Linked DNA regions of Homo sapiens: region 2 is linked to region 1. The links come from fine-mapping of genetic effects on gene expression. Tissue or cell type: amygdala. Region 1 holds a variant in brackets; the other region holds the start of a gene. All regions are shown on one strand. Distances are from middle to middle.

Region 1 (8,181 bases):
AGAGAGAGAGAGAATCAGATAGAGACAGAGAGAGACAGAAAAAGACAATCAGATAGAGATAGAGAGACACAGAGAGAGACAGGGAGAATAAGATACAGAGAGAGAGAGAGACAGCATCAGACAGAATCAGATAGAGACAGAGAGAGAGAATCAGACAGAGAGACACAGAGACACAGAGAGAGACAGTAGAGACAGAAGAGATACACAGACACACACAGGATCAGATAAGAGACAGAGAGACACAGAAAGAGAGAGAGAGACTGAGATAGAGAGAGACTGAGGCAGACACAGACAGAGAATCAGATAAAGAGAGACAGAGAATCAGATAAAGAGAGACAGAGACGGGGAGAAACAGAACCAGAGAGAAACTGAGAGCAGAGAGAAAGAGAGAGAATCAGAGACAGAGATAGAGAGGGAGAGACAGGAGAGAAAGACCGGGAGGGAGGCTGCCCTTCCACCTCCAGGGAGTTCATCCCATCCATGCCTCCCAGCAAAGGAAGCTCTCACCATGGCCCCTGGCTCTCGGATTCCAGCACCCTGCGCTCGGCTTAGAGGACATACTGCATTTACATCCTTGGACCTTGGAAGGCTTCTGAGGTCTGTTACTTGGTAACCGCCTGCAGCACAGGAGATGCTGCCTTCTGTTGGAGGCCTCGAGAGACTCCAGAAATGGGAGACCTTCAGGAAACCGTGGCTTCAGAGGGGAGAGAGATGGTGAGTGCATTATCTCCATAATCTGTCTGAGGCCAAGAGAGGAGGAAAGACAAAATTATTTGAAAATTTCCAGTAAGAGGAAGAGAAAGTGTTACATTTTCACCGCTTTTAAAAAGAAGGAATTTTAAACATAAAAAAATATGATTTATCAAATTCCTTGAGTTACTCCTTGCTTTCTTTTCCCTAGGCTAAATCTCACTTCCTGTGTGCAATGAGCAAGCCATTAATTAGAATTTGCAGTACTACAAGAAGCAACGTACTGAAGTTGAGCTGTGCCATTGAGCTTTGCTTAATAACTTTTTGCTGCTTTCATACTTTTTTGAAAATCTAGATCAGAAGAAATTGGCCACCTGGAGACTCTGAATCTGAAGACCTCTTTTCGAACTTTTCACAAGGCTGCATGCTTTCTATGGTGTACGTTGTGGAAAAAAAAAATAGAATTTGGCATCACTGAGTTAATCAGAAACCCTAAGTTTTATGAGAACTTTTGTTAAACACCACACACACACACACACACACACACACAAAACACTAGATGGGTACCACTGCTTTAGGAAGAGAGAGTTCCTTGATTTTTCAACTTAAAGTATCTTATCTTTGAAGGAATTTGCTTTGTTTTTTTCTGGCCCATCCTAATGCCTCTACTTCATGGCATGGAAAAAAAATCCACAGCATTCTCTGGGCAACAGGATAAATAAGCCTTGAAGATAATTTTAATTTTAAGATAACCTTCCCATATATAATAGGCACATTAAAAAAAGATTAATTACCATTATTATCTTTGAGCACATTGGCCTAAAGAAGTCAGTTCTAGTCACAGAGTCAAAGCTGGCACATCCCACATGAAGACGCGTGAGAGTCCCAAATCTCAAGTCATAGCCAACACCCCAATATGAAGAGAAAGGCCTTTTATGCAACAAGTGTGCGTCATTCACAAGACCACGCACTAGAGGAATAGAGTTGTATATTATTAGCAGCTCTCTCTCTCTCTCTCTCCCTTTTTCTCTCTTTCCCTCTCTCTCTTTCCCCCAACCTCTCAACCAGTATGAAAGTGAAGCTATCTAATACCACCCCAAAAATATCAGATGTTGTAAAATTAGCACAATATGAGATTGCAAAGAAGTATTTGTCTTTGGGCTAGGAGTCATGGCAGAAGAGAAAAGTAGAATTACACGTGGACCCTGGGAGGCTGGCAGGGATTCCTGGTGGAGGAGACGCCATGAGTCCCTAGGTTCGACGTCATCTGAGGCCCCAGATGAGCATACATTGTTCTACTAACACAAGGGGGATTATTTCAAAGTTACTTTCCAGGGTTTTAATTGATGCCCATTTTGGCGATGTAGTACCTTTAAAAGATTACGTTATGATGTAGTTTCTGTTTTCAAAAGCAGGGGGAGTAAGAAAAATATCCCAGAAGTGCATTAATAAAAGTGCTTACAATTTTATAAAGACTTTACTCTTAGACAGCTTTATTTCAGTTATCTGAAAAATTAAATGTGAACACTGTTTTGTCTGGATGAAGCTAGATAAACGAGATATATAGGTGTGTGGGCACACCTCACACCTCACACAAAACCCACAGCTTACTTCAATACAACTTTTAGTGAAACCCACTAATTTATAAGCTCTTTTGTAATGTAAACATGAAAATAGATATTCTTCCTCCTTCCAAGAGGTGGTTTGATATCCACAAGATTAACTTTGAACAAAGATGCTACTGAAAATACTCAAAACCTCGCTTGTTCCAGTACTGACACATCAAAAGGGATCCTCCATGAACTTACTCCTGAAAGCCAGCCATGCCCATGAGGCCATTTTCTAATAAAAAGGCATTTCCAGTTTTCTTTTTTTTTTTAATTCCACTTTTTCTAATGTGGTTTTCCATCTCCTGTTTAGAGTCAATAAAAATGCTGAACTTTGACCTAGAGCATAGAATGTTTGAAAATGCAGAAGGTGCCAGCACTCCTTTATTTTGATAGTTAAACACACAGGACAGTTTTACAGTGGTTCTGTTAGAATAAATAGTTAATCAATAGCAAATTAGGTATAATTAGGTGTGCGTTGCAGTTTTTACCTCTGATGGACCCGACAAGCCTTGCAGAAAACTCAGCCCGGAAAAGATGCCTGGATGGCAATGTGGGAACCTGGTGGTTTCTCCCTTCTCTTCTGCATTAGGGCCAGTCTGGGAGTGAAACCTGCCACGTCCCCTTAGACCCTGGGGTGTTGAGTGGGCACCCGCTTTCCACAGCATGGAGCTTGGCTTAATTATCAACACCCCCTCTGTTCTAGTGCCTTATTGTCCAGGACAATGAACTGTCATAGCACAGGCAGGTTCAGCAGCCAAGGGGTGTGGCCTCAGGGCTCAGGGGACACCCTACAGAGAAACCTCAAGGAAAGGCCCCATGCAGGGCTAACCCTGCCCCTGCTGGAACCTCACCTCCCAGTCCTCGCCCTGTGTCCCCTGCATCTCTCCCAAGGGTCTGCAGGGGAAGTGAGATTCCTCCCGACCGCGTCCTCACCCTCACGCCTGCCTGCTGTGCTGATGGCTCCACCTTGTAACTGAATGTGACTCTGGCATTCCAGCTCTCGTGGGCTGGCCAGCACCTTCACACAACTGAGCATTTCATCACAGGTGCCTGGCATGGCCCAGCATGCATCACCTTGGGCCTGGCGTGTGGCTGGGAAGGGGCTGCAGTGATCAGCAGCCATGAGCCAAGCTCACCTGCAGCACACAGAAGCATGCAGGGCCAACCTGGTAGAGTCGTCAGGGAGAGGCGACATTGCTGCCATTACCAAATAGCCCACATAAATGCCCACTCCACCCTCTGAGGGACTGCACTTCGGGATCGGTCCATGCTGGGATCTGACAGAACCAAAGGAAACAGGAAAGCCCCGCCCTGGCAGAACCTCTGTCTAGAGGGGTAGGTGGGCAGTAAGTGGGAAGCTGGGGAGTGAGCCCTGAACTGCCACCCTGCGGGGAAGCTGGGGCACACTGCACAGGTGGAAAGAGGGGTTCTGGGTGGGGCTGCACAGGGGAGGCACCACCACGCCGGAAGGGGATTTCAGAGCTTAGACAGAAGCAGGTGATATTGGAGGGTCTAGGTGGTCTCCAGGAACAGGCCTGTCTCAGCACCCCTGGGGTAGCCAGTGCCATGGGGTGGCCCCCAGGAAATGTGGCCCTCACACTGCAGCCTTGGGTGAGCTAAGACCCTCGGGGGAGGCGTGCACTTCCTGTCCCCATGGCCACTGGAACCTGTTGAAGCTGAGCCTGAAATGCAAGCCTCAGGCAACCAGAAAACTACATGATCACCTCAGGTTGCTACTGACTGATTCAGGTATTGGTAGATTCATTTCACCCCATTTCAAGTGGATTTGATGTGGCTTACAACACCTGCAATGGCCACAGAGAACAGGGTGATGGGGAAGGAGCAGGCGTGGAGAGGAGACCCAGACACAGGCAGGAGCATCGGATGCTGAAGGCACCTCTGCTCCTCTACCTCCACAGAGCCAGCCCCCAGGACCCCCGGGGCAGCTGTGGGGCATCTCCCTGCGATTTTATGCTCATTCTGTTACTCCCCTCCCCCAGCCACACGGAGCCTCCCTCCTGGGGGTCCTGACTTCATTGTACCCTGGGGCAAGGCGGCCTTTCAATCGCAAGCTGCTGAAAACCCCATTAATAAAAACCCTGCTAGGGAGGGTTAACAGGAAAAAAAATCAGTTCTTCACCATCAATTTGATTACTCATTTATTGAGGGTCTACTGTGTCCATGGCATTGGGCCTGGTCCTAAATTCAGGGAAATTTAACAGGATTTGGGAGGAGATGAGACCGAACATGTGGTGCCACAAAACCCAGACCCTGCGGCTCTGCAGGCACAGAAGGTGTTGGGTGGACACTGCGGCTCTGCAGGCACAGAAGGCGTTGGGTGGAGACTGTGGCTCTGCAGGCACATGAGGCGTGGGGTGGA[G/T]ACTGTGGCTCTGCAGGCACACGAGGCGTCTGGTGGAGACTGCGGCTCTGCAGGCACACAAGGCGTCGGGTGGAGAGCGCTGACCAAGATTGAAAGTGGGCACATTCCTGGGCCCCCCAACATTCCTGGGACCCCACAGAGCCTACAGCAGCCTCAAACCCCAGCCTCTTCATGCCCCTGGACTGTCATCAACACCCTCTGCCAGACACCAGCAAGGGAGGTTCTTTCTGTGTCTCAACAGCAGCTCTGAGCAGGGATTCCTGTTCCATGCTGTCTCCCCAAGTCCTTCTGCCATGACTGGGACCCCAGGCAAGCCAGCGCCTGGGCACCAGTCTCCCTCCTCGCCATCTCCTGTCTGTCTCTAGGCTGTGGCAGCAGCCCCATATTTCCCCTGGACGCTGACACCCTCGTGCAAGTCACCTCCGTGGGAAGGTGGCCCTTGGAGACAACAACAGCCTCACATTGGGATCAGCCACCCTTTTGCAGGGAAGCTCTAAGTGGCCATTTCCAAGCACTCTGTGATTGGGTGCCTGAGATGGTTGTCATCAGGATCCCAGGGGGGAGGAGGCCTCCATCGTCTGAGGGGCTTGGCATCTCAGGGAGGACACTGGCCTTGGCAGAAGAGGAGTAGAGCAGAGAAAGCGTGCATGCCCCCCAACTCTGCACACACGCACCCTTCCATCACTGTCACGGATCGGCTGGTTTGTTTATCAGTCCTAGGCCAAGACCTTAGTCTTGGGGGGTGATAAGAGGGCAAATCTTGGAGTGAAAGCACACAGTCAAGTTCAGCACCATCTAACTGCATTAAAAATGGGTAATGAGCCTTCCTTGCTGATGCTGACCTGTGCAAAGAAGGCCTGCCTCAGGACGGCTTGTTTTCATGAGGACTGAAAAGGTCAACACAAACCAAGAACAACAATATGCTACCCAGTAGCAAAAGGAAATTAATGAATAAGGAAAAATCATAGCAACAATTCTAGCAAGCAATGACTTTCTTTTGCACACCGCACAAATTAGCTATTTCTCATTTGCCCCCCGAGGAAGTTTCTCTTCCTCCCCTAAGAGCAGATGTCAGTGGTAGGAGGACAGAATCCAAAAGGTGAGCCCCGAGCTCTGGAAAGGAAGTGGGATGCTCCCGGGAGGAGCACAGATGGCTTGGTCTTCCCGGGAGCTGGCAGCAGCCTGAGATTACACGGAATGAATTAAACCCAGTAGGGGCCTTGGCAGTCCTGGTCACTGCTACGTCCCTAGCAGGGCCGGTGCACAGTGGGTGCTCAGGAGCATTTGCAGAACAGATGCCCCAGTTAAAAGCTGAGACTGGGCAGCCATGCTGAGCTGTCACTGGCCAGGGCTGTGCTGCAGGGCGTGAGGTGGCCCCTCCCAATAGAAGCAAGCAGGGGACAGACCCGCTTTGCTTTTTGCAGTGTGTGACCTCCTAGAACATCAAAGATATTGGATGGCCAATCAGAGTTCACCCAAATTACTGGAATACAGTGACCATAATCACAAAGAGAAAGGCGCAGCCCCGTCCCCAAGGATCTCAGCAGGGTTGATGGAGCCCAGCTCTCTGTATTGAAAACCATTTTATTTATAGTGTCGTTTTTCTCAAGAACTGATGCTTTTCGATGGATCTTTGTGTAAGCTGGACCAGTGGAGATAGCGGTCTCTCCTGGGCAGGCTCTGCTCCCACTGGGAACCAACCCTGGGTCGTGTGGGGGTGAGAAGAGCCCTGAGGGGCCCTGGGCCTGTGTGATGGTCACCTTCACGGGCAGAGAGAAAGCAGCACCCATAAGCAGGCAGCCCCCGCTCCCCCCGAGAGTCACGCCCACCACGCTCAGGCAGTAAGGCCCCGCTTCGCTGTCTGCTGTCTTCATTTATTCTGCACGAAATGTGCCCCTTGCTTGGCAGTAATTACAAATGATGAACAGCCAAACAGCACGGGCCTGAAATTTCTGTATGTGGGAAAGACAGCTGGCAAGGGACTAGTGTGCTGAGGTCAGGGGCTGGTTCTGGAAGTTCCATCCAGTCAGGGAGTGTGGTTGTCTAGGCGTGCACAAGCAAAGGGGTGCAGCTGGTGGAGAACTTGGCCCTGGCCATGGCAGGTGGGGGTGCTGCCCCCTCTCTCACATCACCCACTGCGGTGTGGCTTGCAGGACCCTGAGAACCAGGGAGGGCGGCCTGCCCCAGCCACCCCAACACCCCCTGGGGCTCGCCAGGGCCAACCTTGGAGACCTTGCCCAGATGGGGCCTTCGCCGAGCCAGGGCTCGATGGAGAAACTATGTATTCTGAGCTGTTTATTTAAGCACAGGGTGGTTCCTAATGGAGCCATCAGACCTTGCTCATTGGCTAATAGTTTAATTGGGCCCATCTGGAGGACGCTGTGGCGAGAACTGTCCCTGCTCTGATATTGGCAGGGAGGCAATTTGTCATTCTGTGGCCAGTGACTGGCACTCCCATCCCCAAAGCCACACAGAAGCCGGGCCGTCTGTCTCACGAGGGGAGAGCGGAACATCTGAAGCGTTGTGTGTTCACCTTGGCACAGAAGGAGAAACGCAGCTCTCTGGTGTCCTTCAGATAGCCTCGGCTTGGGAGACCAAGCTGCTAAAGTCAGCCTGGTGCTGTGTGGCTGGCCAGCCCTCACATGAGCCGGGAAAAGCTGCTCCACCATCTCGGACACGCGGGGTTTTGGTGACCGTGCTACATCCACGTCAGCATTTGCCAGTGTCCCTCGACCCTCTGCTAGGGGCAAATGTCCCACTGCTGAGAAGCTCCAGGCACGCACATCTTCCTCAAGTGTCATTAACTGTCAGACCTTCTTACTCCCCTATCCGGGACTGCAGTGGGCGGACAGAGAATTAAAGCTTCACTCCAGGAAAGACCTCGTGGACGGTCGGTGGAGTCATGTGCCCGTTTAATTTAAGATAGTAAGGGACAGATTAACTTAGACCTTTCACGGACCGATAGCAAGGACTTCTGATGCAGTTAGATCAGTATCTGCCACTTTTGTATGGGAAGGTGCTGTGAAGTTCGCCAAGACTGGCGGAGGTGCGTTTCCCTGCGCTGTGGTCATGTCTGGGCTGCAGCCTACCAGCACCACATTATTTATGAGCCACCTCCATTCTCCACCCCCTTCAGTATCACAGCCCCTCGAGTACTTAGCTTGTCAAAGGTCCTAGCAAAGTGTCTTTACCATCTGGTAATGTGGATGCTGACCTACTCAAAACACCAGGAGGCTCCCCTTGCAAACCCAGAATTTTCCTCTCCTTTAAGTGACATCAACCAAGGTTAAGTAGCTTCTAGAAACACTGAAGAATTTCTTACCCCCAAAAAACATAAACTAGGCTATAAATCTCACTCTTTGTAGAGCTGCCACTTAATCTATGCTTCAGAAAAGCATGTGAGAGCAGTCATGAACGTAGCCAGTCTTGCAGACACCACCACCATATTTATGGCAAGCGTCCACCATGGGGAACAACAGCAAGAGCAAATACAGTCTACTT
Region 2 (8,181 bases), 130 kb after region 1:
GCAAAGGCATACATGCGAAACAAGTTCAGTGAGCTGGAGAGAGAACCCAGAGATGCCGTGAGCAGGGAGAGTGTGGGCCATGACTTGAGAGGAGTTTGGAGAGTATGGGGTGCCCACATACTGTTTCTAAACGGATCTTGTCTAGAAACCGACAAGCGGTCGGTGTGCATGGAGGGCTTTGGGCGCAGGGGCGGACGAGGCTGATGAACAGAAAAGCCCACTCAGGCTCCGCATGAAGAGCAGGCCGCAAGGAGTCTCGTCCTGTGGCTCCCACAGAGGCCACGTGACCCTGGCTGAAGCAGTGGCCGTGCAGAGAGAGAATTCAGTGAGACGCACTCACGAGGACCTGGCAGGCTGGAGAAAGGAGGACGAAGTGACTGTGGCCCGGGTGCTGGGTTTGGAAACTGGATGAGGAAACCCAGGACGCAAGTGTTTCAGGAGGAGGGAATGTTGTGGGTGTGGGAGGCCTTGGGGCAGAGGCCATGCAGGATGAGGTCTGAACAATGTCCCTTCACCTGGGTGCCAGGAGGGAGACCCTCACTGAGCTCTGAGAGGGGCGTTTCGGTCGGGCAACTCGGCTGCATGCTCCACATCCCATAGCAGGGGCAACAGGTGAGCAGAGGAGAAAGGCACGAGGCAGTGGACGGGTGCCCAAGGTGGCAGGAGCAGTGGGTGGGTGCCCGCATTGGCAGGGGCAGTGGACAGGTACCAGCACTGGCAGAAGCAGTGGATAGGCGCCCATGGTGGCATGAGGTAGTGGACAGGTGCCCACATTGACAGGGACAGTTGACGGGTGCCCACAGTGGCAGGAGCAGTGGATGGGTGCCCACAGTGGCAGGGGCAGTGAATGGGTCCCTGCAGTGGCAGGGTTCAGTGGATGGGTGTCCGTGGTGGCAGGGGGCAGTGGACGTGTGCCCGCAGTCACAGGGGAGCAGAGAGCGGCTTCCCAGCCATGCACTGGTGGTGGAGATACCCTGTCCTTTGCCCTGCGCGTGCCCCTGAACTCTGCCCTCTACATGCAGCAGCACTGCCCGCAAGTCTCACAACCAATAGTTTCTGCTGACATCATTCTGTCTCCTGGGGAAGCCTCCCCCTCCCGTGGAAGCTACTGAGTTGCAGGGGCAGAGGGGCTCCAACAAGGGCTATTTTTTAAATGGGGGAGATTTGAAAATGTTTAGAATCTGGTGATAAGGGTGTCGGTGAGGGGAAAACTATGGAAGGGGTCACAGGAGAGGTGACGTTGCATCGGAAGAGTGGAAGGGTGTGGGGCCCAGGGCCAAGGATGGCCATAGCTACTGTGCAGGGGCGGATTCAGGCAGATGTCTCGTGGGTGCTGATGACCCCAGGGAGTCAGATTTCTCAGGTCCTCGCCTTCCCTAATCTTCCCCCTCAATCTGTGGGGGACTCGCAGTGTTGGGCATGGTGCATGGACTGATTGGAGGATTTGTGTTGGGGATGGTGCATGGACTTATTGGAGGATTTGTGTTGGGGATGGTGCATGGACTGATTGGAGGATTGGTGTTGGGCATGGTGCGTGGACTGATTGGAGGATTTGTGTTGGGGATGGTGCGTGGACTGATTGGAGGATTGGTGTTGGGCATGGTGCGTGGACTGATTGGAGGATTTGTGTTGGGGATGGTGCGTGGACTGATTGGAGGATTTGTGTTGGGGATGGTGCGTGGACTGATTGGAGGATTGGTGTTGGGCATGGTGGGTGGACTGATTGGAGGATTTGTTGGGGTGGTGCTGCTTGGCTCCTGCAGTCAGACCCACCTCACAAGCAACATCTTGTCCCAAAAACTAGTCCAAAGCAAAGCTACATTGTGGGGAAAGAGAGAACCGTGGGAACCTAGGAAGGGACAGACCACAGGGGCAGGACGAGTCCAGTCTGGAGCTCATAGAGGGCAGATCCCGCTTGGGACCACATGCCACTGGGTAAATACACTTTCAAAATCCCAATTCCACACATTCTGCTGGTGTCAACAGAATCCACTTCCCTCTCAGGCCATCATTGCCTCATTCTAAAATCTGTGGTTCAGCTTCTGACCAAACATGACAGCATCTAACTGTTTTCACTACAAAGGGCATCACCTGTCCAGGAAAGGGCTTTCTCACCCAACGGGCAAGAGTGCCATCAACCAGCATGACAGGAGGGGTGTGGGTGATGGGAAAACCATGGAGAACTTGAGAGGGCTCACACCGGGCGCTGCTGGGATGACCAAAGACCTCAGACAAGTAACGTGAAATTCTATACCACGGTTTACCTCTATAAAACAGGAGTAAAAGTGTGTTCCTCACACCATTATCATCAGCAGTACTTTGGCGCATCCATAAGTCCTTCCTGAGAGCCTCACATACAGCAGGGACTCAATAAGTAACTGCTCATAGATTCACGTGCACTGTCAGATCAGTTACATAAATATGAAATGTGGCCAGGGGTTCCAAACATCGATACCAACGCAGCTTGAAAGGAACCAGAAATGGAGGAACAGTATTTGATATGTCCCTTTAAAAATCTGGGTAGACCAGCAGTTTAGGAAGTGAACACGGGCACTCACAGGAGGCGCGGAGCTGCTGTATCGCACAGTAACATTAATGCAGTAAGCTCAGGTGTGTTGGCCGAAGACACAGCCATTGGCGAGAACGTAGCCCACAGCCGCGGACACGAGTTTGTCGAGAGGCTGCACATGCATTCGGGTTATTCACAGCCACCTCCAAGAGGGGAGTCCATAAAGTGTGGGGGCTGTTATTGATGGAGGCAGAATTATATGCCTCTTACTGCACAGATATATCAGCCTGGCATTTTTCTACTTACTCCAGGATTTTTATAACGTTCAGTTCAATGGCATTCTTGCTTAGTGAATAATTTTAATTTGTGCATCCAGAATGATAAATTTATGAATGTTGATGACAGCAAAGACCCATCCCTCATCGGCTTCTCCCCGTGCAGCTGGGCCCCTCTCCCCTGTCGTCCATCTGATGTTCTTGCCAACACCCCTTCAAATATCTCACGCTGGACGGCTCTCCTGCTCCTCTGATGAGATGTGTGATCAAACGGAAGAAAATTATTCTGATAGACTATCTGACCCCCGTCTTACCAAACCAAATAGCATCTCACAATATTATATTTTTAACTTTCTAATCATCCTGTTATGTATATCATCCTGTTATGTATATCAAGTCTTTTTACAGCAAGTCTTTCTAATCATCCTGTTATGTATAGCAAGTCTTCTTACAACAGAAACAGCATTCTTCTTGCCAGTCATGTTAAGGGCATTGATTTTAATTTAGTTTTTGTGGATTATTGTGTTTGCTTGATTTAAAATGAAAATCAAGGAGGAAGAAGTTTTTAAATATCATCAGGCAGTTTGCTGAGTTACTACTGTAAGCAAACCCCGTAAAAATCATCAAAACAGAATCCTAGGCATAGGAAAGAAAACTCCCTCATAACCACCGATCTATGTGGGGATGAGAATGTCTCTATAAGGAACGCTAGACATGTATTTAAAATACTAGCAGAGTCATATCGTAAATGAGGATGCGATAAGTACAAGAAGCAGTTCTCCACAAGGAATTGGAAGTGAGATTCTGTGGCGAGCACTGTAGTTTTAAACTGAGGGAAGCGGAGGGAGAAGTTCCTGTAAGAATTCTTTCCCTTTGTCATTCTCCTCAGGCTCCTGACCAGTTTCTGGGTTAAAGAGAAGGGCAGTGCCTCTCTCGTCTGTGGTCACTTGGTTAATATCATCCCCAAATGCGGAAGCTTCCAAAAAGCTGGAGTGGTTTCGTTTGGAAGTCAGAGCTGTGCACAAATAAGTTATTTTCTCTATTTCACATAATTATTAACAAATGCAAATTAAGATGCAGGGGATGTTTCTATGCCAGGACTCACCTGTGGGGAACTGTGAGGCTGATGAGGCAAGCAGCGAAGTGGCTGCCTGTGCCCGCTCACGACCCCTCCACGCACCAAGTGCGTGAGTCAGGGAGGTGCCAGGAGGAGGCGGGAACAGCTGCTTCATGTCATCCGGCTCAGTCCGTGTGTGTTGCTAGAAAGGAACACCCGAGGCTGGGTGATTTATGAGGAAGAAAGGTTTGTGCAGCCATGGCTCTGCAGGCTGTACAGGAAGCGTGGCACCAGCATCTGCATCTGGTGAGGCCCCAGGAAGCTTCACTCGTGGCCGATGGGGAGGGGAGCGGCCTGTGCAGAGATCACGTGGTGGGAGAGGCGGTGGGAGGGGCCAGGCTCTTCCTACCAATCAGCTCTCACTGCAACACACAGAGCAAGAACTCATTCATAACCAGGAGGACAGCACCAAGATAATCGTGAGGGATCCACCCCTGACCCCAGCATCCCCCACCAGGCCCCACCTCCAACACTGGGGATCACGTTTCAACATGAGATCTGGAGGGGACAAACCTCCAAACCATAGCACTGACTGTGCCACTCTTAAGAGACAGTTGGACAGCTCCTTGCCTCCTCTACAAGACTAGGGATGGGGTTCCAGGCATGCTCGTTAATGACTGCCCCATCTGCACCACCTGCCCCATCTGCCCCACCTGCCCCACCTACCCCACCTGCCCCAGGCCATCTCTCCAACTTCCCACCTGTGTCCTTTCCAAATCCCAGGAGCAGCCGCGCAAGTGCAAGACCGCCCTGCTGCCTTAGAACAAGGCTTTCCCCAGAAAGCTGTCTCTACCTAGGACATGCCCTGTCCCTCGCTTCCTGAGCAACAGCCCCTCAACACAGATGCACATGCACGCATACACACATACACAAACACGTGCATACATGCACATGCACATATATGCATGCACACACGCACATAAGCACACACGCACACACACCCATACGTGCTCACACACAGACACACGTGCACATGAGCATACACGCTCACACACATGCACATACACGCACATAAACGCACGCAGACACGCGCACACACACAAGCACATGAACATACACATGCGCACACACGTACATGCTCACATACGCACATACACACACATAAACACACAAGCACATGAGCATACACATACACACCCATACATGCACGCACACGCATGCACACATGTTCAGGCCAGCTGCCTCGGCTAGCTCTGTGCAAATGGTGGGCGTCTTCTGCAAGCCACCCTGTCTTCCCAGGCTGTCTTCCTCTCAGGACGCACATACAACCCCTCCGAGGTAACAGGACACAGATGCAACCCACAGAGCCGACAGGAAAACGTGGACCACCAGCGTCGGGCTGCTGATGTACTTTGAACTGAAAAGGCCCCCTAGATACCCACAGAACTGCACGGCTGAGGCGAAGAGAGACCATGAGAAACAGAGATACCAATGTTTCAGTCAAGGAAAAAATTAGAGAAGAATGTGGAATAAAAAGAATCATAAAGTGAAATAAATGTTTTCAGATTTTAGATTTCAGATCCACTCCCGCAGATGAAATCGTGAGATTCCTGAAGAAAATAATTGCACCAGTATTTGATCATTTTACAGTTTTGATTATGCTTATTTCCAGTTTTCCAGGAAAGAAATCTTTGTGTAACCTCATATGCACGTGTTACAAGTAGAACCAGAAATTCCTCCTCCCCCAAACATACAAAAAGGAAAGCAATTATTTAAGTCAGGTACCTGACCTTTTTTTACAGCTATTAGTACAAAAAGTGTTTTCTGGGGTGGTTTCCTGGCATGAAACTCAGGATTTATAGAATCTCTTCCTGTTCGTGAAGTTATTATTATTATTTTATTACTAAAGCCCTTAACTAAAGCAAGGATGCTTACTTAAATTGGCAGCTAGCTGTGAAAATGGAAAGGTAAAAAGACATAGCAGTATGTATTTGTGGATATAAACTATCTTTAAATCTGGAGGCTCAGACATAGATTGGACTATCCTGACTATTTTCTGTGTATTTCATTCCAGCCAGACTGCTAGTTCTAGGCTGGAAATATTATTCTCAACATAGAATTACAGGCCTTTGTGTCACCGCTCACTGTGATAGCCAGCAGTTCCTGGACCCTCACAGCACCTGTACACAGCACACATGAACACACGCGCGTGTGCACTCTGACCCTGCCTACCACCTCCCCCCGGGCAGCCACCGGGCTGTGCTGTTCTCGTAATCAAAGGTGGAGATGAGGAAAGTGTCTGCCTACAGCAAACACTCAGAAATAGATTCCTGTGAAAACCAAACAAAAAGGCAATAGAAAGGAGAAGTGGGAGATACTACATTTTTCATTAGGGCTGTTGCTGTGGAGGTTTTAGAACTTGGGCTCAGGAAAAGTGCTTCTTGCTGATTGACCCATTATCCAAGTCTGGTTGGAGGAACTTGTGATGCCAGCAGGTCTGAAAATTGCCCAGAAGATCACAAACATGGATGCCTGCTGGTGGACCAAAGAGATATTAAGGAACTCTAATTATTTTCTTTTATATCTTTCCTACTGAGTATTGGACACGTTAGTCACAAATGGCGACTGAATTAGTGGGACTTATATGTGGTGATTCCATAGGCATCAAAACACCTGTGAGGCTTAGTAGTCATAAAGTCCTGACCCTATTTTTGCTCTATTGCACCAAATACATTCATTGTATTATAAGAAGTTTGTATGTCTCAGACTCTCCTACAAAATTTTGTGTACCTTAAAGATAGTGACAAAGAATTATCTACCTATCATCTATTCTCTCTCTCTCTAATCTATCTATCTATCTATCTATCTATCTATCTATCTATCTATCTTCATATCCCCAGGATACTGTCTAGAATATAGTAAGTGCTGAATAAATTAATGAAATGCTTAATTAAAAAATGAATAGGTGAATGAATGAGTAGATGGATGGATGGATGGATGGATGCATGGGTGGATATTGAGTAGACAGATCAGGTTGATTAGAGAAAGAAACAAGCTATTCAATACTGTTTATAATATGCAGGCCATTTATACAGAAAAGAGCATTTATAAAATAGGAGATTAAAAGGATGACAGATTAGAAAATGAAATGTTCAAGATTTGTGCTGATATAATGGTGAAACTGGGATGGGGAGCATCTGACTAGATTTTAGAGAGAATTAAGCCTCAAGGTAAAACATTTTGATTTTATTTCAGTGATACTCTAAATCATTGCTTGTTTCTGATAAGGAAAGAGTCAGTATTAATTTGGAAGCTGCAAGGTTGGAATAAAGTTATTTTAATGATGAGTGGAGAATCTGAAATGTTGGAACAGGCTCATGGTCAAAATGCAGAAACTCGTGATAGAGATGAATGAGACCGAGGTGCTATTCCAGACGAAGCCTCTGGCAGGTTCTTTAAGCAAATCTAATGTGAGGGGGTGGGATGGCCCAGCAAGCATAGGGGCTTTGTTCTTGGTTTCCCCAGCTCAGGGCTGCGTGACGTGCATGTAACTTAACCCTGTAACCGAGCCACCTCCAACTTCCTGATCTGTAACACAGTGGGGTGGAGACTATGTCCTCTTGCACTTACACAAAATCTTGGTTCTAATGTTCGGATAAAATATTACTTCCACTGCCTACGTTACATATCTAAGTAGATAACCATTTGTTATCATTATTAATTAATTTGTCATCAGATTAAACAGAAATTCACAGATATTTGCCATACTTGTTTCTCTCTGAAGAAAAATAAAACCTAAAGCTAAGAAATAGCCATTGTCGATTTTGGATTTGTCACATAGTGTTATCGATTTGCTATAGAAACGTGAGTCGGTGCTCTTCTAACAAAAGGATGATGTCACCAAGCAGCGGACTCACATCTGTCTGCTGGGTGTAAGGAGATAACGATTTGAAACTCACCTGAAAGAGAGCTTAAGGGCTTTATAAGCAATAACATTGTGATCCTCGCACTGGTGAGAGAGAGGAGTCGCTCCTGCCATGGGGACTGGAGCGGCACAAACAAGGTGTCTGGTTAGGAGCCATGGTGAGCTTGGAGCCCAGCATGAAGGGGCCTGGCCTGAGCTGCAGGCACGCTGTCCTCTGAGGACCTCGGAAGTATTCTGAGAAGTAGAAGTGCAACAGTCTTTAGAGGCTACTGAAAAATGGGGCTAAGATCCACGAGTTCAATAACTAACGTATAAACGGGCAAAGGAAGAAGGAGAGGAATGATTGCTGAGAAGAGGGACATGTGTAGGGTTGGCATGTGTCTGTAAGAGTCCCTAGTACATACTGGACCACCTG

Evidence for each region. PIP is the estimated chance that this variant, and not a neighbour inherited with it, causes the effect.
Region 2: it holds the start of ADARB2-AS1, and the variant in region 1 is the best candidate, but not a certain one, in a credible set for the expression of ADARB2-AS1 in amygdala (GTEx, PIP 0.82).

The regions. Positions count from the first base shown.
Region 1 is chr10:1,650,061-1,658,241 of GRCh38, reverse strand. All of the region lies in intron 1 of ADARB2 (adenosine deaminase RNA specific B2 (inactive)), which reads left to right. Among named protein-coding and RNA genes, the nearest start is that of ADARB2, 83 kb to the left of the region's middle. The variant G/T (reference allele first, on the strand shown) is at 4,681.
Region 2 is chr10:1,522,608-1,530,788 of GRCh38, reverse strand. ADARB2-AS1 (ADARB2 antisense RNA 1) reads right to left here and starts at 4,159. Exons shown (of 2, transcript NR_033387.2): 1 at 3,890-4,159. The region is part of intron 1 of ADARB2 (adenosine deaminase RNA specific B2 (inactive)); the gene reads left to right. RefSeq lists enhancers at 272-1,271, 8,174-8,181.